Linked DNA regions of Homo sapiens: all the other regions are linked to region 1. The links come from fine-mapping of genetic effects on plasma protein levels. A gene starts in region 1. Each other region holds a variant in brackets. All regions are shown on one strand. Distances are from middle to middle.

Region 1 (4,669 bases):
TCCACAATACCAAACAAACCACTTGAATTTTTATAAATAAGCCACTCTTTCACTTCTTGATACATGCTATTCCTTAGGTCTATATTGCCATTGGGACCACACAAATTCCAACTCCTGATTTAACAGCAGGCTCCTGGGGCCACCTCCTCCATGAAGCTTTCCTTGCCTCCTCTAGGTATGTACAGTTTGGGTCATATATGCATTATAATACACATCTGCATCTTCACAGTCTATTGATGTCTGCTGGTGACTCACTAGACTATCATTTTTCAGATTTTTCTGACTGTGAACCATAGCAAGAAATGTGATTTATATAGCAACATACACATGTTCATAGCAACACAGTACACACGTTCATTCATGTAACAGATATTTGTTACATGTTTACTCTATGCTAAGCACTGTTCTAGGTATAAACAGTGGACAAAACAGTTGAAAATCTTTGCCTGCATAGAGCTTATATTCCAGAATTTTACACTGAATAAAGAAATACTTAGGCTTCCAGATTTAAAAAAAATAAAGAAAACACATCTAGTTGGTTTTATACTGCTCCAAGACAATATTCATCGTGAGAAAACAATGAAACAATGTTGACTAAGGGAAAATGTGACATCCAAGTAAAATTATGCCTATCCATCCTTTTACCAGAACAGATGCCTGGAATGATATACACCAAATGCTAACCCAAGTTAATTCTAGGTGGCCAGTTTGAGGTCATATCTTACTTTGTTAACTGTATTGCTGAATATTGGCCAGGAATCATTTTTCTAAAAATAGTGATTTTACTCTTGATAGTTACTATTCTTTTTTTTTTTTTTCTTTTTGAGATAGAATCTCACTTTGTTGCCCAGGCTGGAGTGCAATGGCGTGATCTTGGCTCACTGCAACCTCTGCCTCCTAGGTTCAAGTGATTCTCCTGCCTCAGCCTCCTGAGTAGCTCCTGCCTCAGCCTCCTGAGTAGCTGGGATTACAGGCACGCGCCACCACGCCCGGCTAATTTTTATATTTTCAGTAGAGACAGGGTTTCACCATGTTGATCAGGTTGGATAGTTATTACTCTTGATAAAAACAAAAGGAAAAGAAACATGGCAGTGTGCATGATAGTAATCAAAGAATGAATCAAAAAAGGAAGAATGGTAAATTTTTTTTTTAAAGTTTCACAAAATGAACAACCTTACTACATGAGATGAATTTAGATATATCCTATTCTATTCCATTTTTTTGTTTTTGAGATGGAGTCTCACTCACTCTATCGCCAGGTTGGACTACAGTGGCGCGACCTCAGCTCACTGCAACCTCTGCCTCCCAGGTTAAAGCGATTCTCCTGCCTCAGCCTCCCAAGTAGCTGGGACTACAGGCGTGTGAAACCACACCCAGTAATTTTTGTATTTTTACTAGAGACAGGGTTTCACCATGTTGGCCAGGATAGTCTTGATCTCTTGATCTAATGATCCACCCGCCTCAGCCTCCCAAAGTGCTGTTTTGCTCCACTAAATTGATTTCAAGGCCTACTCATTGGTTATTATTTGTGGCTTAAAATACATATATGAGACTATAGTACATTGAAGGCAGGAATGTCTTTCAACCACAAATTGCCAAAGAATGCCCAATACTTAATAGGTACTTAATTAATTAGTGTTTCCTCATAAACAACTGAATGACTGAATGTTTTCCTCAATAGAACTGAGAGCAACTTGAGAACAGTTGAGAGCAGGGCTCGTATTTTTTAAATTTTGAGTCCCAGGGCATAGCACAGGGCCAGACATAAAGCCAGTCCTCAATAAATATTTATTAAATTGAAATGAGGCCTATTAGCCAGCAGCACAATTTAACACAGCACTTCACAAACAGGTTTTATAACAAATTAAACATTTGCCTTGGTTCTTGGTAACAAAAATATTCAAATTAGGGGTTTTAATTATAACAACTTGTATTTGCCCACAAAAACATGATGTTCCCTGGAACAACCTCCCACATCACAGATGTAAAGACTTTTCTTCTCCCAGGAATTCAAACTTGAGGCTACATGTGCTAGGAAGGGGACAAACCACACTAACAGGTACCTCTCTTGCCTCCCAACCCTGAACCTCAAAACTTCCATATTTTTCTTCAGCAAAGGAATTTCAAAATTGTCAGATTACAATTAATTTTTAAATGAGTTCATTTTCTCCTTCTCAAACTGTATTGTCTAATGGTGTCAGAAGAGCTTGGATAAGGTCTGTATGACCTTATTGCTACAATCCTAATGATGTGTGTTAAAAAATGAAATCTCTGAAGACATCACAGAGCTGTTGTAGATTTCAAATGAGAAATGTCTCTGAAAAGTATCAGAAAATATGGGCTTCCTTTATAATGATCTATAACCCAGTTTTCACAGGGAGAGAAAAAAAATCAGCAAAACCCTAACCCTGAACAAATCTCACTTTTTAAAAGAAAGATACCTTACTTGAGGGAACCACCATACTAATTCTTTGTATTCCTATTTGGAACTACTGCTGCCCATATTTTTTGAAAAACAACACCATGGCTGTCTATTCTATCAAATCAAAAGAAGTTTTTTCACAGTTGACATATTAATTTTTCTACCTGGCTAAAGAAAATGTGCTTTTTAGTTTACTTATAACAATTTTGTAATTTAGATGTGGGGAGGGCTTGTCTTGGATATTATTGCTTCTTTTTGTTTTTGTTTCTCTTTCTTCTTCCTAGCTGTTTTCACTTCCTAGCTATTTCCACTATGGGTGCAATGGAGATGGTGACAGGAGTGTGGGCCAGAGAGAGGGGGAAGCCAGTGTGAGACGGACCTCTCCCAGCTATACATCTGGGAAGGGGAGTCTATAAACAGCTGGGGTTTTGTTTTTGTTTCATTTTTATGATAATTTGTTTGTATTAGTGTTTAATTCCATAACTAACACATAGATGGACTTTCCTCACAACAAAGGACGTCAAAGGTCAGTGCTCGCTCGGCCTGATCCCCTCTCACTCCTTAAGGGGTGGACGGGCGCCGTATCCTTCCCTACCTCTTTCTACCTATTTACACACAAGTTGGAAACTTGCAGAACTGTGAAAACTTCGAAAATCACGTCTCTTCCCTATTCCCCTACACACATCAGGGCTTCATCTGACAGTGGAATACGACCCGGGCCCCGGTGCTCACTCCCGGCGTTGCCCTTCGCTCCGGGACCTGGTGGTCCTCTCTCTCTGCGCCCCAAAACGCCCTGTCCTAGCTCCCTGAGCCCCAGGGACGCCGGGTCCTCTCTTTGTGCCCCAAGACTTCCTGCCCTTTCTCTTGCGCCCCGAGACGTCCTGTCCTCTCTCTCGCTCCCCGGGTTGCTCTGTGCTCTCTTAGCGCTCCAGAACGCCCTGTCCTCTCTCTTTGAGCCCCGGGACACCCTGTCCTCGCTCCCCGAGGCCCCGGGACGCCCTGTCCTCTCTCTCTCTGCGCCTCGGGATGCCCTGTCCTCGCTCCCCGAACCCCCGGGACGCCCTGTCCTCTCTCTTTGCGCCCCAGGATGCCTTGTCCTCGCTCCCCGAGCCCCCGTGACGCCCTGTCCTCTCTCTTTGCGCGTCGAGACGCCCTGTCCTCGCTCCCCGCGCCCCCGGCCGCCTTACCCTCCGAGGAGCGAGGCCACAGGGCAGCCGGGACCCCAGAGTAAAGAAAACCCTGGCCGGTAGCTTCATGTTGAGTCTCCAGAACTCGGGCCGGAAGGCGGCGCAGGCGGTTGGGCGCAGGGGGCGGGACAAAAAGAACAAAGTTCTCGGGGCTGGAAACGCTGCCTAGGCCGCCGGGGGATGGGACGGGGACTGGGACCCAGGCGGCGTGGACGCCCAGCGGCCCTGACCTTCAGAGTCCGGCCGAGGGCGCCGCCTAGCTGGGCCTAGCTGATGCTCTTTCCTGCTCTCTGGGCCAGGAGTGCTTTGTATGGCAGAGAATGGAGGTTCTTTGCGTCCTTGAGCGGGTGTACGAAACCCCGCGCCCTGCAAGGGTTTGCAGATTGCAGCTGCGCACCCCATACACTGCCTATCAAGGGCGAAACTCTTTTTCAGTCGTATGTGTTTATCCCTTAAGTGCGTGTTTAAGTGCAGAGTGCGCGTGGCGCCAAGTCACATATTATCAGAATAATAATATGTTGGATGTAAAACACGGCCTCACTTTCCCTAAGACCAAGAGGCTGAAAAACACTAAGGGCAGCTTCCGGCGTTTTGACTTTTCGCAGGACACACCGCCCCCTGTCGCCGGATGCAGCGTGACTGCGACCGCCCAGCCTTGGCTTTTTTCTCGAAGTTAAACACACGTTAAAGGCAAACACAGATTCAGTATATCATTCTCCATCTTAGTGTAATATACCTGTTGACACAAGGCATTAGCTCAGATCACATTTCTTTCCTCATTCGTAAAATGAGAATATTCATAGCTAATTCAGAATTTTAGATAAAAGAAGATGGGTGTGAGGCCCCAGGCTGAGGCTGATGGTAGATGATATTGAGTGTTTACTATTTGCCTGGCATGTTCCAAATGCTGATAAAGAAACATTTATATCTTCAGAGGAATGTACACTTACATGTAGACATATAGCTTATAAGGTATATAAACTCTGAAAAACTTTGTAATTTTGAGTTGGTCTGGTGATAATTTCCAGGCCTTCTGCCTGTAACTGGTTACAGAAATAAA
Region 2 (8,164 bases), 37 kb before region 1:
AAAAACAACTGGATTTTTCTGTACTAGTGCCTTGAAGTTTAGGTGGCAGTTTTCCTCAATAATGCAGCCATAAGACAGAACAAACACTCAGGGGACTCCATGACAGACCTCCAGTTCTTCCCAGGAGGTTATAAAGCCCAGAGACAAGGGGTTGCAACTGGTCCCAGTCCTGGTTCTAAAAAGTGCATGCTAGGGAGTTTCTACACTTCAGTTTTCTTTTAATCTCTTTAACAGTAAGTAGTTATTATTTGGGTACAACTCCTATCTCAGTGGCTAGACTGTAAACTCCTTAGTGGCAAGCACTTTCTCAGAGATACTTCTGTATCTTTCTCAGTACCCGTAGATACAGTGAACAGTCAATAAATATAGGTTAAATAAATAAAATGCAGGTGATTTTTCCCTAGATATTGGGGTCTTGGAGAGAAGCGTTTGTGTCTATAAGCCTATTTTCAGATATGCTTAGGACAGGGCCACCCTGAATCATGTGTTTTAATGTATGTTTTTAAGTTTCTTTCCACTAATTTTATTAGACTGTTTAGTATTGAATTGTCAGATAAATAAGATAGTCAACAAGTTTCAATCACTCAGGAAGTTTTTGTTTCTATTTCCCATCCTTTAAACTGCTAAATAAACTAATATGGCCATTTCCAAGTTATTTTTAATACCCAGAGCTACCTATAACCCAAAAGTCCTTTAGTATTATTTTCCAATATGTTTACACAACTGAAACAAGTTACCAAATTTTTCCTGGTCTTTCAACATTACATCTGGTTGGCATTATAAATACTTGCTTTAGGTGAAAACCAAGAGAAGTGTGAGTGAAGTTATTTTGGGATAATGAGAGAGCAGAGAAGGTGTGGATATTCTGAGCAACATCTGTAACAACATTAGAGATAATTACAAGTTGCAATGAGTATCCACAAGGATTATTACTTATAGGTGAAATCTATGCTGTCAGAAGGACTTATAATCAGAGACATGTGGGCGTTAGATGACATGCATAATTGACTGAGAGTGAAAGGGCACAAGCATGAGTCAAGGAAAATGCTACCTACCTATAACAAGACAAAGCCTATATAATAAGTTACCAAAGCATCTCTCAAACTAAAAATATAGTTACATTTCCTTGATTTTTTTTAAAAAAGGATGTCAGACAATGTAGGAGCCTTTAAAATGTCATGAAAGTTAACAAATACAGGACAATAACAGACCACTGAAACAAATCAGACAAAGTGCCAACATTGATGGTATAAAAGATCCCAAACGATTAAGACACTGAAATTGACATTATGAAGAAATTGCATAGCTGCTATATTCCTGCCCGCCTCCTTATTTCTTATATTCGATAATGAATAAAGGCAAAGGCCTCTTCCCTAGAACCAGGGCTCTAAACCTAGGCATCTCTGGAAAGTCCTTTACACAACAACCAGAATATACCTATCAGTGTTTCATTATTTAATCATTCACAATGTGATAACAAGCAAAATACAACTTACTTTGGTTTTTATAGGCCCTGGTTGAATCACATTGAATCGCATTCCATATTTACCCCATTCAGCTGCAAGAGACCTAAAAATTAAAATCAACAACATACATTCTGAAATATTATACCATATGTTAAAGACAGTAATAACTGAGACTCACTAGATGCTTACTACATGCCAGAGATTACAACCCCAACAGGTAGGTACTATTATTGTTCCCTATATTACAGATAATGTAACTAAGGCACAGAGAGGTTAAATCATTTTCTCTATGTCATATGGCCAATTTGTCAATCTCAAGAGGTCTAGCTTCAGTCTGTACCCTTAGTCACTCTACTGTACAACCTAACCTTTACATTTTAGTGTCCTTAACCACTATGCTACACCACCTACCATTTGTAGTTTAGAATATATACTTTTGTCCAATGTCAATACACATTTTTAGAGTAGGTATTCATTATTCACATAAAAACGTGAGTGCTTCATGCCCTTCCCTCACATTTTCTGGAGTTCAGTCTTGTAGTTACAAAGTTCATTATAACTTTACTCATAGCCCTGTACATTGGATTACAATGTCTGTAATATCACAAGTGCTTTATTTGAGTAAAAGAGTACATCGATTGAAAATATAAACCACATCCATGTCTAACTAGGCTTTAATATAATTGTTGAACCAAACTTGAAAGGAAATAGGAATCTAACAAAATCTTGCTTAATGTCCTGAAGAAAAATATAACACTAATAGCAAACAAAGAACTTCAAAGGAACTTGTTTTAAAAGCTTACTTTACAGGTAGCTCTTTTAAAATCTAAATTCATTTTAGGAATTTACATTCATATGTATATTTGTGTGTATATATACTTAATGTAATTTCAAATAATGACGAGGTAGCTTAAAAGAATTCATATAATGCAAATGAGGAAGACAGGATAATTTGAAAGGAAGAAGGAAAGAAAAAAAGCAAGATAAAGAGAGAGAAAAGCCAGGATAACGAAATATAACGGAGCCAAGAATGAGGCTAATATCTAAATGTACTGAAGTGTGTGATGTTCCATATAACTGCAATAGTCACATCACAAATTTGTATCTATTCTTCCCATGACTCTATACAAAAAAGGTAAGCCTAATCAGTTACACAATCCACAGTACCCATAAAGAAAAAGCAAGCTAATTGCTCAGGAAAAGCACAATTGTCTCTAATACGAAAAATGCTTTAAGTCTTTCTAGACTTACAAAAGGAAAATTGTACAGTATAACAATCTCCTTAAGACACTGTATCCTTGCAATAGATAAAATGGGCTAAGTTCAAACTTGACAAATGGGATCTAATTAAACTAAAGAACTTGTGCACAGCAAAAGAAACTATCATCAGAGTGCACAGGCAACCTACAGAATGGGAGAAAAGCTTTGCAATCTATCCATCTGATAAATGGCTAATATCCAGAATCTACAAAGAACTTAAAGAACTTAAACAAATTAAACTTAAACACAAACAACCCCATCAAAAAGTGGGGGAAGGATATGAACAGACGCTTCTCAAAAGAAGACATTTACGCAGCCAGCAAACTATGAAAAAAAAAGCTCATCATCACTGATCATTAGAGAAATGCAAATCAAAACCACGAGATACCATCTCATGCCAGTTAGAATGGCAATCATTAAAAAGTCAGGAAACAACAGATGCTGGAGAGGATGTGGAGAAATAGGAACACTTTTACACTGTTGGTGGGACTGTAAATTAGTTCAGCCATTGTGGGAGAGAGTGTGGTGATTCCTCAAGGATCTAGAACTAGAAATACCATTTGACCCAGCCATCCCATTACTGGGTATATACTCAAAGGATTATAAATAATTCTACTATAAAGACACATGCACACATATGTTTATTGCAGCACTGTTCTTAATAGCAAAGACTTAGAACCAACCCAAATGCCCATCAATGATAGACTGGATAAAGAAAATGTGGCACATATACACCATGGAATACTGTGCAGCCATAATAAAGGATGAGTTCATGTACTTTGCAGGGATGTGGATGAAGCTGGAAACTGTCATTCTCAGCAAACTAACACAGGAACAGAAAATCAAATACTGCATGTTCTTACTCATAAGTGGGAGCTGAACAATGAGAACACATGGACACAGGAAGGGGAACATCACACACTGGGTCTGTCAAGGGGTGGAGAGCTAGGGGAGGGATAGCATTAGGAAAAATTCCTAATGTAAATGACGGGTTGGTGGGTGCTGCAAACCACCATGGCACATGTATACCTATGTAACAAACCTGCACATTCTGCACATGTATCCCAGAACTTAAAGTATAATTTTAAAAATGCGCTAAGTTCTATGAAACTATCAGACATCCGTTAATAGTCTTATAGCATCATTTCAAAGGCCAATTCAGTAAAACCAGTTCTACAGAATAGGGTACACGTAATCTCAAGATAGCCTGTTAATCTGACTTAATCCATGAATGTATTTTAGAGAAATGGGTGGGCTGTATCTCTTTCAGACAGAACATACATAAAAATTGCTTCTCTGAGTGATGTTTTTGACAAAGTTCATTGCCATAGCTACCCTGGGCATTTATTTATAGTGTATCTACTCTAAATTGCTTCATGTCTTAATAGAATTACTGTACTGAGCAGAGTCTATATTATCCTATGAAAAACTGAGCAACCTGTTAAGAAAATCTGCCTAGAGGAAAAGCCATCCTCTCTGTGCTCAGAGGTGTGCCAGATACATTTGTTCAATTGCTAGCATGATCTTTCAACTGTCATTAAGCTAGCTGATATACTGAAGAACTACTGTAATCTGATAATGAATCCACCTCATACAGTTATCTCTGCATGTTAAGATGCTAAGAACAATATATGCAATATGTTAGCCATTATTATTGCTCATTCAACCAATGTTTATTATATACTTACCATGTGTCAATACTATAAATATTGCTTAGCCTCAAATAAAGTCAGTCCCTGCTCTCAAATGAGAGTCCCTCCCTCTCAAGAGAGGTGAGCCTGGTTATATAATGAATCAGTTACTAGGCTGGGAATTGTGTGATGTAAGCTATACCTGCTTAAAAGAAGAAGAACCTAAGTGGGAGTGACAAGGAAGGCTTCTCTGAAAAGGTAACATTCTGAGCTGATGGGTGAAGAAGGATTAGGAGTTTGCTGCAAGAGGCAGGGGAAAGGAGGAGCTGAGAGATTAAGAAGGTAGGATGGTGACATGGTTTGGCTCTGTGTCCCCACCCAAATCTCACTCTGAATTGTAATAATCCCCACATGTCAAGGGTGGGACCAGGTAGACATAACTGAATCCTGAAGACAGTTTTCCCCATGCTGTTCTCATGATAGTGAGTGAGTTCTCACAAGATCTGATAGTTTTATAAGGGGCTTACCCCTTCACTTGGAACACATTCTCTTTCCTGCTGCCCTGTGAAGAGGTGCCTTCCACCATGATTCTAAGTTTCCTGAGGCCTCCCTAG[C/T]CATGTGGAAACTGTGAGTCAATTAAACCTCTTTTCTTTATAAATTACCCAGTCTCAGGTATTTCTTCATAGCAGAGTGAGAACGGACTAATACAGATGGAGAAGGAAGACAGCCAAGGCATATGGGTCAGTATGAGTAAAGGACAAGGGCCCAAACAACATGTAGAATTTGGGAACCTATAATGCCTTATTTAGTAAGACTGTGTACTATAAAGTATGAGAAGAAGGTTGATGGGAACTCAAGCTGTAAAGGAAGGCACATGTTTAATGAGCATCTATTATATGCAGGAACACAATAAAAGCAGCACCAAATCAGTTCTTAAAGGACATGAGATAAAAAGCTCTAACAAGACTGAAGAGTCCTCACAAAACAAATATTGACATTGAACAAATGCTGCCAAAATAGTCAAGTTCTCATCCTTTATTTCCAACACTACCTGACCTTAAAAAATGGTAATTATCTCTTTTCAGACTAAGATTCAGCTTGTGAATAAATATTTCTTTCTATCTCAAACTAATGTGTATTTACTGACTTAAATATTAAAAATGCTCTGGGACTACTAAAAGAAGAGTACCATAATTCAGCTCAACAAGCATGAAGCACCAGCTACGGACCAGACTCTTCTGGTCCAAGTGGGGAAGTCAGATTGTTTAATGTTACGTTAATGGAGGAAATCCCATCTCTACTAAAAGTACAAAATTAGCCAGGTGTGGTGGCATATGCCTGTAATCTCAGCTCCTTGGAAGGCTGAGGCAGGAGAATCGCTTGAACCCAGGAGGCACAGGTTGCGGTGAGCCAAGATGGCACCATTGCACTCCAGCCTGGGCAACAAGAGCAAAACTCCGTCTCAAAAAAAAAAAAAAAAAAAAAGGCCCGCGATGCCCTGCTCTCTCTCTCTGCTACATTGGTATATTACCTTCATTTTAGAATCTATTTATTAGTGTTTGTCCTCTCACTAGATTGGATTAAACAAAGTTTTAAGGCACAGAGAGGAGGAAATGATTACAGAGAAAACATCTCAAAGGAAGTAAGCAAAACATCACAGCAAAATTCCAACAACAATATAACTCAGCCATAGACATATGAAAGCTGTATGGTAAGTTTAGGGAAACATGGAACAGTTCAATGGAAATTAAAGCATGGAAATAATAAATGGAATAGTAAAAAAATTTAAGCTCAGCTAACAACGAGGACTGTTCTATTTCCATCACTATCATATCCCTAGGACGAAGCATATATAAGGTACACAATAAATATTTATTGAATAAATAAATTAATTAACAATGGCCAGAGACAAGTCTGTTTAGAATGCCATAGTGAGTTCTGGCTTTTATTCCAAAGAGTGACAGGAAATGATCTAAGATTTTTAGCTGGGGAGTGTCGTGAGCAGACATATATGTTCTTAGAAAGATAATTCTGGTGAAAATGTGAATACAAAATACAGGGGGAAGAGACTGGTAGTAAAGAAATATACCATGATTATAGCAAGCCAGACAAGCAATGAAATGATGAGAAGCCCCATTATAATAAAGACAATGGAAAAGGCCAGTGGAGGACAAATTCAAAAAGCAATCATGGCTGGGTGTAGTGGCTCATGCCTGTAATCCCAGCACTTTGGGAGGCTGAGGCAGGAGGATTTCTTGAGGTCAGGAGTTCCAGACCAGCCTGGGCAACATAGCAAGACCTCATCTCTACAAAAAAATTTTAAAAATTAGCCAGGCGCTGTGGCACCTGCTTGTAGTCCCAGCTACTTGGGAGGCTAAGGTGGGAGGATCGCTTGAGTCTGGGAGATTAAGGCTGCAATAAGCTGTGATTGCACCACTGCAATCCAGCTTGGGCAACAGACTGAAGTCCTGTCTCAAAAAAAAAAAAAAAAGCAGTTATACTCTGCTGAGAAAAGGCCACTGGACTTGGGAAGTGCTCATAGTCTGTGTTAGTCCCATTAATCTTATACAGTATCTACAATAAAAGAATAAACGTGTGCTTATGAGAGGGGTTAGGGATGGCACTGATAAAGATCTATGGGAGAGCAAAAAAGCTATAGTCCTGTGGTGTCTAATATGTAGCCACTAGCCATATACAGCTACTAATTTTTAAAATTTAGTTTCTCAGTCACAGTGGGATATTCCAAGGGTTCAATATCTACATGTGGATACTGGATAGTGCATATTTACAGAACATTTACATCACTGCAGAAAGTTCCACAGGACAGCGCTGCTATAGACAAATAGGACTTATCTGGGAGATAAAATGTATGTCTCATGGTGAATCCAAGTCTTTGTTTACTTTTCTCTGGATGGACACCAGAAAGCAGGAATACAGTTCCCTGAGCCACCAACTGTATTAGTTATGTTCAGCAACAGGATTGACAAGGAAGTACTTACTTGCTCATGGCTTCCACACCTGCTTTGGCAGAAGCACTTGGTACTACAAAACCTGAACCAGTCTCAGCATAGATAGTAGTAATAGAAAGAAATGCTGCTCCTGAAATTTTAAAAGGATACAGTTGATTAGCAATATAGATGTATCACTACACATAAGGAAAACATTATTTATAAAAATGGGATCTGATTAAAGAGGGTATAAGAAAAACTAAAGTATTTTTTAAAACTTCACTCACTCTAAATTAATGAGAGAGTAACCTAAGAAAATTGATATGTCTTGCTACTAATCTTATGATTTAGGATGGCCCAATCTGCACTTACTTGGAATGTATGCCTGGCGAGTCAATACGAAAGCCCAAATCTCAGAGGCATGCCCCTATTGCACCTTGTATAATCAGCTGGTCAGGATTCCCATTAACTAAGTACTACTTGAATAAGAATAAATCAGAATTAAACTTAAACTAGCAGGGACTTCTGCCTCCAGCCATAATGAACTTACCCTTCTGCTGTAAACATCAAGAAAACTGAGTAAGACATATGCTACAATTATATACAGATACTGCACAGCAGGCAGGGAAGGACTATGACTCTGATAGAAGGAAAATGACTAAGCCCTGAGATACCCTAGCTTTTTGCCTAAAGATACTATATAGATGGAAGGATGAGGAGGAGGAATCTAAGCAGAAAATGGCATTCACACTGAGTTAAGAAGATAGAGATCGGTTTGGGGAGCCTGAGGAAACTAAGGTTTCTAAGAGTTCCTCCAAGGAGGAAAGTAGGCAGAGATATTAATAGAACTCCATAAAGC
Region 3 (8,164 bases), 1.1 Mb before region 1:
AGAATTATTTTATATCTTTCTTATTAACTCTGCAGCTTACCAGCTCTGGATAAGTTAAAGGACAGCTATAGTCTTACTACATAGAATCATTATAAGGAATTGGTGGAGTGATCCTTATAAAGTGTTTGCATGGTACCTAGCACAGAGAAAGTGCTTGAAGTTGTTAACTGTTATGGTTACAAAATATGTAAATAATTTTTATTGTCCAATTTTCTCTCTTCATATACACTAAATTGTTCTAATTCTTGAACCACAGTAACAACGTGTGAATGACTTATGCATTCAGTGTGTCCACTCAACTACTATTTATTAAGTACCTGTTATGGTCTATGAAAGGAACTGGCAAGACAGTCATTATTCCCCTTAAATATTCCCAAGTGTTAGTGGTCAAAGTTTCTCTCTGCTGAAAATGAAAAGTACCCCGTAGGATGGAGGAAACAGCCATCTTGAGGGCTAAATCTGGTCTAACATAATATTTGTTGACCTGTTACTACAGTGTTGCCACATATGCTTTGTTGGTTTTTTAATTTAGCCCCCAAACATTTTAAAAATCAGATCATTTCATGTTAAAAGAAATCTAGACTTCTAGTTCTCTTGCAAATGTGAGCTCTGACAAACATTGAAATTATAGAGTAGCAGGGGTAGTGTGCCCTTTATTTGGTGCATGTCTTCTGCAGGTTCCCAAGTTCTGCTGTTCTCTGTTGTTGCCTCATCACTGAGGCCAAATGTCAGTTGCTGCTTACATGCATTTGAACAGTTGTTATTTTTTATAGTGAAATTAAAGGTAAACTGTTTTGATATCCATGTTTCTACCAAAGGTAAGAAAACACAAGCCAAAAAGACACAGATTTCAAAAAAAATAAGAGAAAGCATAATTCTTTATGGAAGTGAAGAATAGTCTTTTTATCTAAGTATGCCAAAAAAAGCATGTATAAAAAAATACAATTTAAGATGCCATTATGAAAAAACTCCAAGTCAGTGTTTACTAACATCTTTTCAGTTTTAGGAAGGAGGCAGGTTGTCTTGCATCTCATTGGATCTCCGGTACTACCTATTTCTTGAAATACCATAAGTGCTAATATATACTTGCAATAGATAAACATGAGGAGTATTACAAATACAAGAGATAGCAGGAACTATTTTAATATTAAGAGATATCAAATATGCACGCTAGGATTAATAAATGAAATAATTATTTTCCTTCTTCTACAATATTTACTTAATCTGGAGGCAGAAATACATGTTGTCTCTCTTCCTGCTTCTCCATCAAAATCCCGACCAAGTAATCAGGATCTTTGAGAATCACAATAAGAATTACAGCCTCATGTTTGGATTTTTTAAATTTAAATTTTAAATTACTCCTTTCCACTGATATTTATTGAGAAACTGCTATGCTCCAGGTACTGCGATAAACACTGGGCAAATGTTGGAGAGCTAAAAAGGCATATTCCTCTTATAAAGACATTATTTACTTGTAACAAACAAGTAAATAAATGTATTAGTCAATATGTAAGTAAACAAAAAAATGGACAAGCACAAATTATATTAAGTACTATGTAGGAAACCAATAGAGTACTGTAACAGAATAATAAGGTATATGGGATGGGGGTGGGAATCTGTTCAGAGATGATCTACCTGAGAAGGTAACATGTAGGCAGAGATCTGAATCGTGAGGAGTCAGCCTTTCAGAGTAAGTGGAGTAGGCACTTCCAAGAGAAAAGCATATTCCTGGCTATTTGCCTATCAATGTCATCTTGAACAAGGGTTAGCAATCTCCTACCTGTACCACAGATGCTATGTGCCACCTCCATGCTACCTTTGCCACCAAGAGATTCAATGTGATGCATGATTTGAAGGTTCCTCATCCTGATACCCTGTGGAAAGTAAAATCAGTGACAAATAAAAGCAGATCATTATCTCAGGTAGAGTCTGCTAAAGATGATACTTGCTTGTCAGTACATGAGTATCCACCCTAGTAAAAAACCACAGAAGAAGTGGGATTTATCTTCAATGTTCTCTCACTTCCCCTTCCAAGTGCCTCTCCTGCCTTCTGATGCTCTTTCCCACAAGTTGCAGGCAAATAAAGCATGTATATTACTCTCTTTTTATCCAGAGTTGCTCCTTGTCCTTATATGAAGTAGATTCCAGACCTCACAATTGTATATGCCTACCCTTCTACTCCAACCCCTCAAAAAAAGAGGAAGAATGAAAGAATGAACAAGAGAAAAGGAAGGAAGAGAGGGAGAGAGGAAAGGAGGGAAGGATGGTCCTGAAGATCACAGTTCGGTGCTGAAAAAAGCATTTCTATTAAACTTCAAGACAGAATGAATGACCATAGCTAATAATGTACCTTAAGCTTTTCTAGAATCTTTGTATTAAAAAAGTTGATTGTTACTAAATGTATTTTAATCTCATAAAATTTTAGGAATTTAAATGAAGAATTTCACAAAGGGTAAGAAAAATTATATATTATATTTATAAATTTGTCATTATGATTCTCCCATTGTGGAAAAAAAAACAAAATCTCGGTACCCCAATTCACAAAGCCAAAAGGAAGAAAGTAAGCTGAACGCTGAGTCATGCAAGAAACTGCTCGCTTTTGTTCCTAAGCTAATAGCTACAGATAAAAGGTCAGATATCTCCATAGGTAGGTACTCTATGTTCACCTTATGTAAAGTGCCAATTTATTGAGCGTAAGAGGATTACCTAATTGACTATTCCCCAGCCTGCTCCTTTTCTCTTGCAACACATGGAGTCAGCAATGGGACCATATCCTCTCTCTTTCCCCTCCAGCCTGCTTTCCCCCTTTAAATACTGAAGCCCTCAAAATCATCTTTCTAAAAAGGTATGAACCATAGATTGTTCCTGTGGATTTGTGTTTCTTTCTTCCGGGCATATCCTTAAGCTTGGCAAAATAAAATTCTAAATTGATTGAGTCCTGTCTCGGATGCTTTTTGGTTTACGCTATCAAGGTTTGGAAGGCTTAAGACATGTCATTAAGGTACTTTATTTCCTTCTAGCATTTTGATTATACTGAAATTGGGTAATTAGTGGTGCCTGTTTTGAGTAACATGGTGAGTAGAATTAAGAATGGAAAGCACTGGGAAAGGGAAAACAAAAACACATCAAAGATTTCCACCTTTACTTCCTTAGTTTTTTTAAAGAAAAATTAAATGTATTATCTAATCACAAGCTACAAATTAAAATATTTGATTTACTTTTTCAGCAAAAGTTATAAATTATCGAATAGAAATTGGGAAAAGATATGTCATTTTTAACAGTGTTAAAATCTTAGTTATACTCATTTGACTAGTTAGTACAGCTCTTATTTACTTATTCTACAGACAGGTACACTCTTTTATCCTTGTATAGAAGTTACTTTAATTTTTTAGTATTTAAGTTATCCTTAAAATACAAC[A/T]TGAAGCTATTTTACCATATATAATTTACTTAAATATTCTTAAAATAACATTACTTTTAAATAAAATATGTATGTGAATTTAAGAATTCCTTTCTCTAACTCCAGTCCTCAAATGTGACCACTGTTAATAAATCCACTTAATATAAATATCATAATACAAACAGCAGCTGCGTGATCCTTACAAGCTGTGTTAGTTTCCTTGGCCTGCAGTAACAAAGTATCAAAATATGGGTGGCTTAAAACAATAGAAATGTATTATTTTATAATTCTGAAGGCTAAAGTTTGAAGTTAAGATGTCAAAGCCATGCTCCCTCTGAACACATCAGTTCTCTCAGATTTATTATTTCCTTTCCTTTGCTAAATTTAGGTTTTATTTGCTCCTTTGTGCCTAGTTTTTTAAAGTGGAAGCTGAGGCTGTTGACTTGAAATTTTTTTTCTTTCTAATACAGACAGTTTCATGGGATAATTTTTTATTTGAGGATTGCTTTAGAGCATTCCACAAATTTTGGTTTGTTGTGTTTTTTTTTCCAATTCAAAGTACTAATTTCTCTTTTGATTTCTTCGTTGATACATGAGTCATTTAGCATGTGCCTTTTTTGGAAAACTTTATGTTTTGATTTATTTTAGGCTCACTTAGAAGTTGCCAAAAAAATAGAGTTCCTTTATACTCTTCAACCAGCTATGCTGCCGTAAAAAAAAATAAAATAAAATTATGTCCTTTGCAACAACATGGATGCAGCTGAAAGCCATTATCCTGAGTGAATTAATATAGAAACAGAAAATTAAATACCCATGTTCTCACTTACAAATGTGAGCTTAACAATAGGTATGCTTGGATATAAAGATGGAAACAATTGACCCTTTTTGGGGACTCCAAAAAGGGGAGAAGAAGGGAGCAAGGGATAAGAGACTGTCTATTGAGTACTATGTTCACTATTTGAGTGATGGGTTCACTAGAAACCCAAACCTCAGCATTACACAATATACTCATCTAACAAACCTGCACATGTACCCCCTGAATTGAAAATTAAAACACGTGTGCATGCGCGCATGCGCACACACACGCACACAGAGGAAACTGCCCCTGATGCAATACTATTAGCCATAGACTATTTGGATTTCACCAGTTTTACAAGCATTCTTTTTGTGTGTTCTGTACAATTTTACTGCATGTATAGATTTGTGTAACCACCCCAAAATCAGGGCACAAAAATGTTCCATCACCTTGAAGAAACTCCCTTGTACTGCCTCTTTATGGTCATACCCTCATCAGAACTCCAACTTCTTCCAACCTTCTTATCATCCTTAAACTTACTTCCTCATCTATGCAGTTGTTCTGGCCCTTTTAAATGTTCTTTTATAGTTTGAATATTTTGTTAGGAGAGTCTTAGCTAGTACACTGTTTTATTATGTTAATTTTTGTGTAGTTTTTGCTTTGTGGATAATGAAAGGGATGTTTTTCTATTCTATTTTCTATCTTGTTACTGCTGCTTCACACAAATTACTGGTCTTTCTAGCTGCTTTTTTTCTTTCTTTTTGGTTGCTCTCTCTTCAATTCTTGTTTCTTTCTTTCTCAGTCTTATCTCCTTGTCAGAGGAAAAAAAATGTATTTTTCCTTTACTCATGATGAATAATTTTCTGACTTCTGTTTCCCCACCTTCTAATATCAGTGCCCAGAAAGTATAGGGCAGGCTGTTACAGGGGTTAGTTAGCACTGTCCAAATGGTCAGGAAAAACTGTACTGTGTTCTAGATCAAATCCGTACCCAAGGGCACCTAATCTAGCTGTGGAGGTACAGTGGCAAGGTTATCAGCCCATCATTAGTGGGCTAATCAAAGTGATTCCCCAAACATCGATTTCTGACAGAAATTCTATATTCCTAAAAAATCTTTAAAAGATAGTTTTGACAAAAAAAAAGAGATAGTTTTGACTAGAAAAACTGCATCAGAAAATTTACAAGTATTTGATCAGAGACCATAGCAAAGGAAAATGTGAAACATTACTATCAAGTTAAAAGGTTATTGTAAGGCAACAGTAACTAAAATTTTTATGTTTACTCTTGACAACTATTATAGTAGTGCATGAAATTATTAGAACAGTGACTATTTTCCTTTTCAAATTTTAAAACCAAAAGTAAAATTCTTTATTGTATAAAAATAGAGATTATAATGCAGACTACCAAAATACAACATATGTATAATTTACCCTAGAAAGGAAAAAAATATTAATTGTATTATATCTACTCCAATTTAATTATGAGGTTTTTTTAAAGTTGTGTCTTCAGTGAAGATAAGAATCTCATTATGTTAATGGCTCATATGAAGGGATTGGAATAAATAATTCAAATAATAGGTAAAAACCTTTGGGAGAATAGAACAAAGACATGGAAGGCAGCTAAGATAAATGACCAGCTGCAAATAGCCTTGGTGGAAAGATAAGGAGGAAGAGGAATAGTGTAGAATTGAGGAAATGATAAAAGTGAACAGCCTAATTTTCAAATTCAAGAGGAGAGCATCCTAATAGAATTGAACAAGATACATTTTTGCAGACTCTGACTAAAAACTAATTATTAAAGGATTATCATAGCTACCACCATCTGTGTATGGCTTCATACTTCTCAACATAAGCAATCTCTATATGAGAGGCAGACATGTTTTAAAAGAAAGGATTTGGGACCAGATGTTTTGGATTGGGTTTCCAATTTCAATACTTAAGGCTAGTAACATAATGAGTGTTTCAGTGTCTATCTCAGTAAAATGTATATACTAGTAGTGTCTGTTTCAAGGATTGCTTTGAGGATAAATTGGGATGATTCACAAAATGTAGTAAGCCCTCATTAAAATGTGTTAGCTAGTGTTAATATCAAAGATAACCCAATTTATTGTCAGAAACTTTTTCACTTGAGATATAAATAAAGTATGAAAATCCTTGGCTTCCCCAATTGGCTCAGCTTTGCATCTCTCCCATTTTTGACCAGGGCTAACCTGTAAACCTGTGTAAAAAAATAAGTAAGACAAAATACATTTTTTAAAAAAACAAAACAAAACAAAACAAAAAACGTATCCACCAGGGCCATGGTCAGGATATCATCTGGCCTCTGCTTAGGAATTCTGAGCTTATCAACTTGTGTCCTCCAAGCCACAGCTTTCCCCCATATTTTCCCAGTCTACATGTGCCTGGGTGTCTGCCACACCCACCCCCAGCTCTGATTTCTGCTGCTAACTCTTATGCTCTTCCTTGAATTTAAACCTACTTCACTAATACCCAACAACCTGTGGAGCCCAAGCTAACCCTTTCTCCACAGGTTAGACCTGGGCCTCTAATTATTGGCTTCTAATTCTTCATCAGCTGGTTCAGTGCTCTTCTGATTTGAATTTCAGTTCTTCCTAGATAACCTTGCCACTGTACCTCCACAGCTAGATTAGGTGCCCTTGGGTACGGATTTGATCTGGAACACACTACAGTTTTTCCTGACCATTTGGACAGTGCTAACCAACCCCTGTAACAGCCTGCCCTATACTTAAATAAATTCTACGTATTCTGCTTACTTTTGATACCCCACCTTTCCCTTTCAAACCAATTATTATTTCCTAGGATACCTCTAGCAAAACCAGTCTCAATTGTGGTATAATTGGGTATAAACCTGTGGAGATGTTTCATGAGATAAGAAATTGAGGGTTGGATATATATGGCTCAATAGTATTATCTGTCCCACTTATTTATTACACAGGTTTACTCTGAAGTGAGAATCTATATACAAAGCATCTTTTGCATTATAAATTGTATGCACATACATACGACATTTCATTTCTGGCTCACCCTTCCTCTGCCTTTCTAGTCATGCCTTTGTTTCCCTGGTATGAATATCTAATTATATTGTTCTCCCTCACTTTCTTATTTCTCTTCTTTCTTATCTTCTACCCCCCATCCCCTATGTCCCTTACATTTTACTTTTGTCATCCAATAGGTTCCCATTTCTATATGAAAGGTCAGCTCTTCTCTGAGTCCAGCTTTTACACTAGCTCTCTTCCTCTCCCTGGTGCACATGATAGGACTGAACAATCAAGGCTTAAGACCTAGTAGGTGTACGCATGTTCTCACTCATAGGTGGGAATTGAACAATAAGAACACATGGACACATGTGTGCCGCCCACCCCGGCCTTCCAAGGTGCTGGGATTACTGGCGTGAGCCATTGCGCTTGGCTTAATCTTTTAAGTTTTTTGTCTTCTATGTTGTCTGGGCTGGTCTCAAACCTCTGGCCTCAAGTGGTCCTCCCACCTTGGCCTCCCAAAGTACTGGGATTACAGGCATGAGCCCTCATGCCTGGCCTATATTTTACTTTCTTCTAAAATTTTAAAGCTTTATATTAACCAACTCATATTAACTAAGCAAAAAATTAAGAAGAGTTGAGATTTTTCTCTGAGAAAATATATGCACTGAATAGTTCATGACTAGACTAAATTTAAGAGTCATAGAAAAACCATGGAAGGGGCTTGCCTTTGTGTTATTGTGTCGATATATCCTTCTGTGGTAAGTAGAATAAAGGCCTACCAAAGATGTCCACATTCTAAACCCCAGAACCTGTGAATATGCTACCTTACATAGTGTCTTAGTTCATTTGTGCTGCTATAACAAAATATTTGTGACCGTGTTATTTACAAACAAATTTATTTCTCACAGTTTTGGATGCTGTAAAGTCCAAGATCAAGGTGCCAGCCAAATCGGTGCCCAGTGAGGGTCATTCT
Region 4 (8,164 bases), 510 kb before region 1:
TTTTGAGATGGAGTCTTGCAGTGGTACCACCTCAGCTCAGTGTAACCTCCACCTCCTGGGTTCAAGCGATTCTCCTGTCTCAGCCTCCCAAGAAGCTGGGATCACAGGCATGCGCCACCATGCCCAGCTATTTTATTTTATTTATTTTTTTGTATTTTTAGTAGAGATGGGGTTTCACCATGTTGGCCAGGCTGATCTCGAACTCCTGGCCTCAGATGATCCACCTGTGTCAGCTTCCCAAAGTGCTGCGATTACAGGCATGAGCCACTGCACCCGGCTGACTTTATACTTTTTATAAAACTCATTTAAAATCAGGCTGAGAGTAAAGAGCTCTGACTCTGCTAGAGAGGCTTGGAGTATAGACTGAAAGTTCTCAGAATATAATACTTAATCTTTTCTTTGATGACAACTTTTACACATTTTACAGATAATCCCCTGATATCGCCTTCTGAGAGTTTTATTACAAAAAAACTTCATGTTCATTCATTAATGTGTGCCATTGAGGAAGGAGCACATAATCCCAATGTTTATGTGAGATGTGCCACTATTCCTTGGGCATACTGCAGTCATGGTAACAGGAATTAAAGGCACCAGTGTTGTATTTCATATAACTGATCTGTGGCCTTATTTCTGTTTGGAGGTGGAGGCGTGCTTATGCCATTAGTATCTGTTATCAAAAATTTCCATTGAAGGGAATGAGAAGTACTCCCATCCCCCTACCTCCAAAAAATAAGTGACTAGAGTAAATATTATTGATGAAAACAGATGATCTTCTGCTTTAAGTAAGCTTACAATACCAGTTGAAATGATCAGTGTGGAGCAGTGGCTTTCAGACCAGCAGCATCAGAATCACCTGAGACCTTGTTAGAAGTGGGAATTCATAAGTGGCCCCAGACTTACCAAATCAGACACTGTGAGGGTGCACTATAATAATCTGATTTGACAGGCCCTCTAGCCTGGTGATTCTGACACCTGATAAAGTTTGAGACCCGCTCTGGAGAGTAATGTAAACATGAAGATGACAACATAAGCATAACAAATAATCACATAGAGGTAGCAATATATTCAAATTATTTTGTAGCAGTATTCTACACTATTATCATAATTGTGTCTGAATGAAACTGAAGGTCATATTTGATCCCAGTCTTCACATAAAATCAGTCATATGTCTAAACAAAAGACAACAGATTTCTATTTTCTCACTGATGTAAAGAAAGGAGATTGCTCTATTGCCCCCATATCTACTTTATACTACGTGTCATGTGGGCTAGAAAAACCTGATAAGATCTAATTTATAACTCAAGATCCAATTTATAACCCAATTTACACATGAAACAAAATCAAAGGAAAAATAACAAAGATGCTAATTATAAACTGTATTTTATCATATGAAAAGCAATGACTTCTTTATATCTACTACATTCTTTTGTATTTTAATTTATTCTCCAATGAGTATAGATTAATTGTTCTTAATGATTGCTAAAGTGATACTACTGTGATCACAGACTGGAAATTTTCTGAGAGCTCATCTGAACTGTATATCACACCAGACTTACATGATGTATTTGCTTAGTTAAAATGTAATATGTATTCATTATTGCATCTTTGGGAAATACAGAAAATTATATGGAAAATAAGTTAACTGTAAAGCCCCCAGAATTAACCAATATTAATACTTCACATACAGTCTTTCAGTTTTTAATCTATGCATTTCAATGGAATTGACGTATGGTACTTACAACTTTGTATTCTTTGGTTAATCCAGCTCATATATCATAATTTTTTATGTTGTTAAGAAATCTTCACAATTATTACTTAATACAATCACATAATATGCCAACATATACATATACCATGATTTACTTATGTACTTATAATTTGGGGAATTAGAACTATTTAACTATTTCATTTCCTTTTTCTTTTCTTTCTTTGCAATTATGCAATTACATGTGTCTGTGATGAACATCTTTGCACATAAGTCTGTATCTAAAGTTTTGGTCAGTTACATTAGATGTTTTCCCACACATAGAATTATTAGGCATGGGACCATCAATATTTTAAAAAAACCTCCTGAGACTTATTGCTAACTTTTCCCTACAATACTGTATTAATTTATATGCTTATTGGCATTTTTTCAGAGGTCCTGTTTCATTTATCTTCACCAGCAAGGTTTTCATCTTGTTTTACTTACAAGTAAGTGGATGCAGGAGGATTGCTTGAGGCTGGGAGTTTAAGACCCAGCCTAGTCAGTTTAAGACTAAGCCTAGTCAACATAGTGAGACCCCATTTGGGAAAAAACATTAGCAAGGCATTGTGGTGCGCACCAGTAAGCCCAGCTACTCTGGGAGGCTGAGGTGAGATGACTTGACTAGGAGTTTGAGGGTGCAGTGAACTATGATCATGCCACTGCACTGGGTGACACAGAGACTTCATCTAAAAAAAATTATTATTATAAAAGTTATTTTATTACATTAATATGCATTTATTTTATTACTAATTAGGTTGAGCATGTATTCAAATATTTATTAACTATAGTTGCTTTTTAAAGAATTCTTTTTTCATATTCTTTGTCCATTTATCTATTAGAGTCTGATTGCTTTTCTTTTTTTTATTTCTAACTTTTAAGTTCAGGAGTACATGTGCAGGATGTGCAGGTTTGTTACATAAGTAAATGTGTGCCATTGTGGTTTGCTGCACAGATCATCTTATCACCTAGGTATTAAGCCCAACATCCATTAGCTATTCTTTCTGATGCTCTCCCTCCTCCCACCCCACACTCTGACAGGCCCCAGTGTGCGTTGTTCCCCACCATGTGTTCTTGTGTTCTCATAATTCAGCTCCCACTTGTGAGAGCATGCAGTATTTGGTTTTCTGTTCCTGTGTTAGTATGCTGAGGATAATGTCTTCCAGCTTCATCTATGTCCCCACAAAGGACATAATCTCATTCTTTTTTATGGGTGCATAGCATTCCATGGTGTATATGTACCACATTTTCTTTACCCAGTCTATCACTGATGGGCATTTGGGTTGATTCCATGTATTTGCTGTTGTGAATAGTGCTGCAGTGGACATACATGTGCCTGTATCTTCATAAAAGAAAGACTTATCTTCCTTTGGGTACATACCCAGTAATGGGATTACTGTGTCAAATGGTATATCTGCCTCTAGGTCTTTGAGGAATCACCACACTGTCTTCCACAATAATTGAACTAATTTACACTCCCACCAGCAGTGTAAAAGCTTTCCGTTTTCTCCACAACCTTGTCAGTATCTGCTGTTTTTTCACTTTATAATAATAGCCATTCTGACTGGTGTGAGATGGTATCTTGTGCTTTTGATTTGCATTTCTCTAATGATCAGTGATGTTGAGCTTTTTTTTATATGTCTGTTGGCCTCATGTAAGTCTTCTTTTGAGAAGTGTCTGTTCATATCCTTTGTTTAGCTAAAGAGAAGTAAAGTTTGATTAAGTTCCTTGTGGGTTATGGATATTAGACTTTTGTCAGATGAATAGATTGCAAAAATTTTCTCCCTTTCTGTGGGTTGTCTGTTCACTCTGATGATAGTTTCTTTTACTGCACAGAAGCTCTTTAGTTTAATTAGATCTCATTTGTCAATTTTTGCTTTCGTTGCAATTGCTTTTGGCATTTTTGTTATGAAATCTTTGCCTGTGCCTATGTCCTAAATGGTATTGCCAAGATTTTCTTCTAGGTTTTTTATAGCTTTGGGTTTTACATTTAAGTGTTTAATCCATCTTGAGTTGATTTTTGTATATGGTGTAAAGAAGGGGTTCAGTATCAATTTTCTGCATACTGATTTTTGGAACTTTTTTTGAGAATTTTTCTCTAATAAGAGTATTGAGATTTTGGTCTATATTAAATAATAATATTAATAAAAATGGGAACAGTCAATTATAAACCCAAGCAAAATTCAATATTAAGGCTTTTTTGCAAAGAGTGTCTTCTCAGACTGCTCAGTGGGTGGCCCCTCTGTATCCTGTGCACAATCAAAACACCTCTTCAGCTACAAGACATTCCTTTCTCTCAATCTCTGTAACAATCCTTCACCAAGACCTGTCATATTGCTTTCTCAGCATCTTGGATTCATCAACTTTACTTATCTCTAGCTAAACCATCATCAGTGATCCCCTGAACTATTTCAAGAACCTCCTGATTCCTAAAATTATATCTGGTCTCAATTTAACGAAAATATTATATCCCCTCCCCCTGCTCAAGCTTAAAGCCTTTCAGAGTTCATCTATTGTCCTTAGGATTAAGAAAAAGCTCTCTATTATGTCTTCTTCTCTAGTTTTATTCAGTGCTAGCTTTTCCCCTTTTTCCTGGGTCCATCACAGTCTTCTTTGAGCTCTTATTACCATGCCTTCTTTGGTTACAGGGCCTTTGCTAGTGTTCATCCCTCTTCCTAGAACATTCACTAGCACCTCGTCCCTTTACACTCCCTTCACCTTGTTGACTCCTAGCATTTCACAACTTTCACTTCTCAGCCCAAACGTTCTTCCACACCCAAATATCTAGGCTAGTTTCCTTTGATATGTGCATTCAGAGATCTGTGTTCTATTCCATTGGGGTACTTTTCTTATTGCAATTATATATTACTATGAATTTAATTAATATTTGTCTTTCTCACTATGTGGCTAACTTTGTATCTTCATGACAAGAAGAACAAGGTGTCCACTAAAGTTAGGCTCCTACCCTCACAAAGAGACTGGAAAATAGAGGTGCCATCTTCTTTGATGACTCCATTTCAAAGAGTTGGTTTCTAGGTCCTCGAGAAAGACATTCTTGCATTTACTGGTGGCAAGAGGCTTTTTAAAAGATTTATATCTCAAAGGGGTAGATAAAGCATTTATAAATATAAGTTTTCTAAAGCAAATGCTCTAAGAAAAGAGAGGTCAGGGTCTAGAGTTAGGGAGAAGCCTGTCTAAAGTTCAGCCAAACTGCAGGGAACCTTAGGGCTGTCTTGGCTGTTTGCCATCACGCAAGCTCCCTTCCTACCTGCTGC[T/C]CAGGAGGCTTGTGACTGGGTTCAGGGACTGCGACTGTTGATCAGTAGTCATTTCCAAGCAGTGACTCTGTTAGGGTGTGGGTGTGGGTGTGGGTGTGGTTTTTTTGAGACAGAGTCTCGCTTTGTCATCCAGGCCATAGTTCAGTGGCACCATCTCAGCTCACTCTAACCTCTGCTTCCTGGGCTCAAGTGATCTTCATACCTCAGCCTCCCAAGTAGTTAGTTGGAACTACCAGTGTGAACCACCATGCCAGGCTAATTTTTGTATTTTTAATAGTAGAGACAGGGTTTCACCATGTTGGCCAGGCTGATCTTGAGCTCCTGGCCTCAAGTGATCTGCCTGCCTGGGCCTCCCACAGTGCTGGGATTACAGGCACGAGCCACCATGCCTGGCCAAGCCTATAGCACCCGGTATTCCCAGGTGGTCTCCCATCAAAGTACTAACCAGGCATGACCCTGCTTAGCTTCCACATTCAGACAAGATCAGGCCTGTTCAGGGTGTTCGAGACTTCTTTATCTTCTGAGATTCTGCCCTAGAGTGACTGCATCTTCTCATCTTCCTCCCTCCAAATTCCTCCTCCTTTCATTCATTTTAATTTTACTTCACTTCTTCCCTTTAGGCTGATATTATCTAATAGCTTGAAAGCTTTTTGTTTTTTAAAAGACCCTGTACAGATGTCTCCAAGAAAAGAATCTTTGTCTTGAATTTGGTGCAGCCATTTTTTGAATCTTTGTTAGTAATGCGGTAAAAAGCTGGAGAGAGGGAAAAATGCCCTCTGGTTATGAGTGAGAGAGAAAGATAGAGAGAAAGATAGAGAGAAAGGGGTCAGAAACATCACATACAACCAGGTTCATACTTTGAGATATAACCTTGCCTCACACTCAGGAAGCTAAATCCTTTGTAGAGTCTTTTGGGGTTCTGCCTACCCTAACTTCTAATCAGGCTCCCTTGTCCAAAAGTAGTATTTGCTCTGTAAAAACTCTTCTCCCAACCTCTAGACTGTATTTCCACTGATACTTTAGATAACCCCATGCCTCACCCCCAAAGTGTGTTCTTAACCCCAGAGCCCATTCTTTTCTTCCCCCGGATATCAAATATTTACTGAGAACTGGGAAAGCTGCAACCATGAACAAAACAGAAACAGCCAATCCAATAATAATTTTCCACCCTCAGAGAATTTATATTTCAGTGGAGAGATGCTGATAATAAAATAATAAGTAAATGGTTCAGTAGAGCCAACAGTGAGAAGTACTACAATAAAACAAAATCAGAGAAGGAGCTGAGGAAGTGCCGAGACGGGTAACAATTTTACACAGAAGGCAGTCGGGCTAAGCCTCATTAAGATGATATTTGAGTAGAGACTTAAAGGAAATGGGTGACTGGAGGAAGAGCGTTCTGGGCAGAGTTTCTCAACTTTGGCACTATTGACATTTGGGGCTATTTCTTTGCTGTGGGGGCTATGCTGTGTGCATTGTTGGATGCTTAGCTGCATCTCTGGCCCTACCCACTAGATGCCAGTAGCATTCCTTCCCCAGTTGTGAAGATCAAAAATGTCCCCAGACATTGCCAAATATCCTCTGGGGTAGAGGGATAATAAATGCTTGTTGACTAAGTATTTTCTGAGCCTCCTTCAATGTCTCCATCATCTGAAGAAGAAGAAAAAACAAATAGAATGTAGTAATGTGTTTTCTTTTTTATTAATAGAAAGATTACTTCCTGGTTCTCGTGTATCATAATAATCTTATATCTCAGTCTCCCTAGTCTCCTGGGAGAGCCAGAGTTTGGTTTATTCTGTCTCTTCCTCCTTCTTAATTTAATCTTAATACCTTTCTCTCTCCTATATTCAATGCTATTTGTTACTCCTTCTTCTTTTTCTTCTTTAGTTCTTGCAAACTTACCTGTTAGAATTCCTCTAGTGAGATCTCTGGTGCTTGTCACTAGAGTAAGATCAGTTCTGTGAATCTCAGAGAACTTTAATAGATTCTCAAATATGTGAGGATAAGAAAAGGGCAGAGAAGAAAAAAGAGGAGAGGAGGAAGAAGGGAGTGATGAAGGGAGAGAAGATGAAAGAGAAAGAGATTATTTAGAGTAGACAATTTAGCCCATTATTATAACTAATAGAAAAGCAATAGCCCCTGTGTATTGGAGAACATACTGGTGGTGAATATTTAATTTTCACTTTGGTGATTAATTTGGTTTGACTTATTTATCCACTCATCTGATTTTTAGATTAGACTCCAATTTTTACCAATGTGCAATTACCTTTATTATCTGGCAGTTATAAATCAATAAGCAATAACATCCTTGCCTGAAAGAATATCCCCATCTCTGAACTCCCTAACACTTTATTTTTCATTATCTCATCATACTTATCACTCATTCTCTTTTATAATCATTATTGGAATATGTGTCTTCTCTCTTCTGTTAGATTACACAAAGATAGGAACTTTATCTTGCATACCTTTCTGTAAGCCCTTAAGTACCCAGTTTACTCAGTAAGTTCTACATTCTCAGGAAACAATAGAAAAATAGCATCAGGTAGCAATTTATATTTCCTGACCTAAACCACTCTATTAAATATACTTTCATGTAAGTCTTTTCTGATCTGCTTTCTGAACGGCTACCATCTTCCTATCCATGGCTAATTAAACTTCTGGTGCCTGCCCTGCTTCTGAGCCTCTCTCACCTCTCAGTAGACATCTGTCCATAATGTATTCCTTTCCTCTCTTTTATTTTTACCATTTCTCTCTTTACTGGCTTATTGGACAGGTGAAATGTTTGTCTTAACTATTTTTCAAACAAAGGGAGGAAAATGAGAGGAAGTGAAGTGGGTGGAAACGGCAAGGAGCAGGAACAGAAGGTCTCCATTTCCCTAATGACCAGGCCCTTCAGCGCTGAAACATAGCGTCCTTATCTTCAGGTTGTTTTTCCTTTGAGCATTCTTCCCTACTAACCTCATTTAATTAATAACTGCTCATTCTTCGAGACTCAGGCCAAGACACTTCTTTCAGGAAGTCTTCTGTGGTATTTCCAGATTACGTTAGGCACCCTTCTTCTGTGTTCACATAATAATTATCCTAAGATAGTTAGCAAATTGAATATAAGAATTGCATCCTTCATGACTGTATCCTTGTGTGGATAAGC

Direction of the effects. Alleles are on the strand shown, and positions count from the first base shown. The strength of an association depends on the size of the effect and on how common the allele is.
As copies of C replace T in region 2, the plasma level of the protein whose gene starts at base 3,694 in region 1 goes up (moderate association).
In carriers of allele T in region 3, the plasma level of the protein whose gene starts at base 3,694 in region 1 tends to be lower than with A alone (weak association).
For the plasma level of the protein whose gene starts at base 3,694 in region 1, C is the low allele of the variant in region 4 and T is the other (weak association).

What was found. PIP is the posterior inclusion probability: the model's chance that the variant is causal. The UK Biobank Pharma Proteomics Project read protein levels with antibody pairs (Olink). The fine-mapping took linkage between variants from a reference panel, not from the people measured, so its PIPs are less certain.
Region 2: its variant is fine-mapped to the plasma level of the DECR1 protein (UK Biobank, PIP 0.97).
Region 3: its variant is fine-mapped to the plasma level of the DECR1 protein (UK Biobank, PIP 0.98).
Region 4: its variant is fine-mapped to the plasma level of the DECR1 protein (UK Biobank, PIP 0.95).

Annotation. Positions count from the first base shown.
Region 1 is chr8:90,000,502-90,005,170 of GRCh38, reverse strand. It overlaps DECR1 (2,4-dienoyl-CoA reductase 1), which reads right to left and starts at 3,694. Exons shown (of 10, transcript NM_001359.2): 1 at 3,610-3,694. The coding sequence starts at 3,678. RefSeq lists enhancers at 3,068-3,207, 4,056-4,350 and a silencer at 3,678-3,777.
Region 2 is chr8:90,036,133-90,044,296 of GRCh38, reverse strand. DECR1 (2,4-dienoyl-CoA reductase 1) reads right to left here. Exons shown (of 10, transcript NM_001359.2): 6 at 7,357-7,456; 7 at 1,497-1,569. Among named protein-coding and RNA genes, the nearest start is that of DECR1, 39 kb to the right of the region's middle. The variant C/T (reference allele first, on the strand shown) is at 4,972.
Region 3 is chr8:91,054,677-91,062,840 of GRCh38, reverse strand. OTUD6B-AS1 (OTUD6B antisense RNA 1) reads left to right here. Exons shown (of 3, transcript NR_110438.1): 3 at 1-2,935. Among named protein-coding and RNA genes, the nearest start is that of OTUD6B-AS1, 11 kb to the left of the region's middle. The variant A/T (reference allele first, on the strand shown) is at 3,419.
Region 4 is chr8:90,508,492-90,516,655 of GRCh38, reverse strand. The region is part of intron 3 of LOC124901975 (a long non-coding RNA gene); the gene reads left to right. It also overlaps the pseudogene RNA5SP273. Among named protein-coding and RNA genes, the nearest start is that of LINC01030, 93 kb to the left of the region's middle. The variant T/C (reference allele first, on the strand shown) is at 5,020.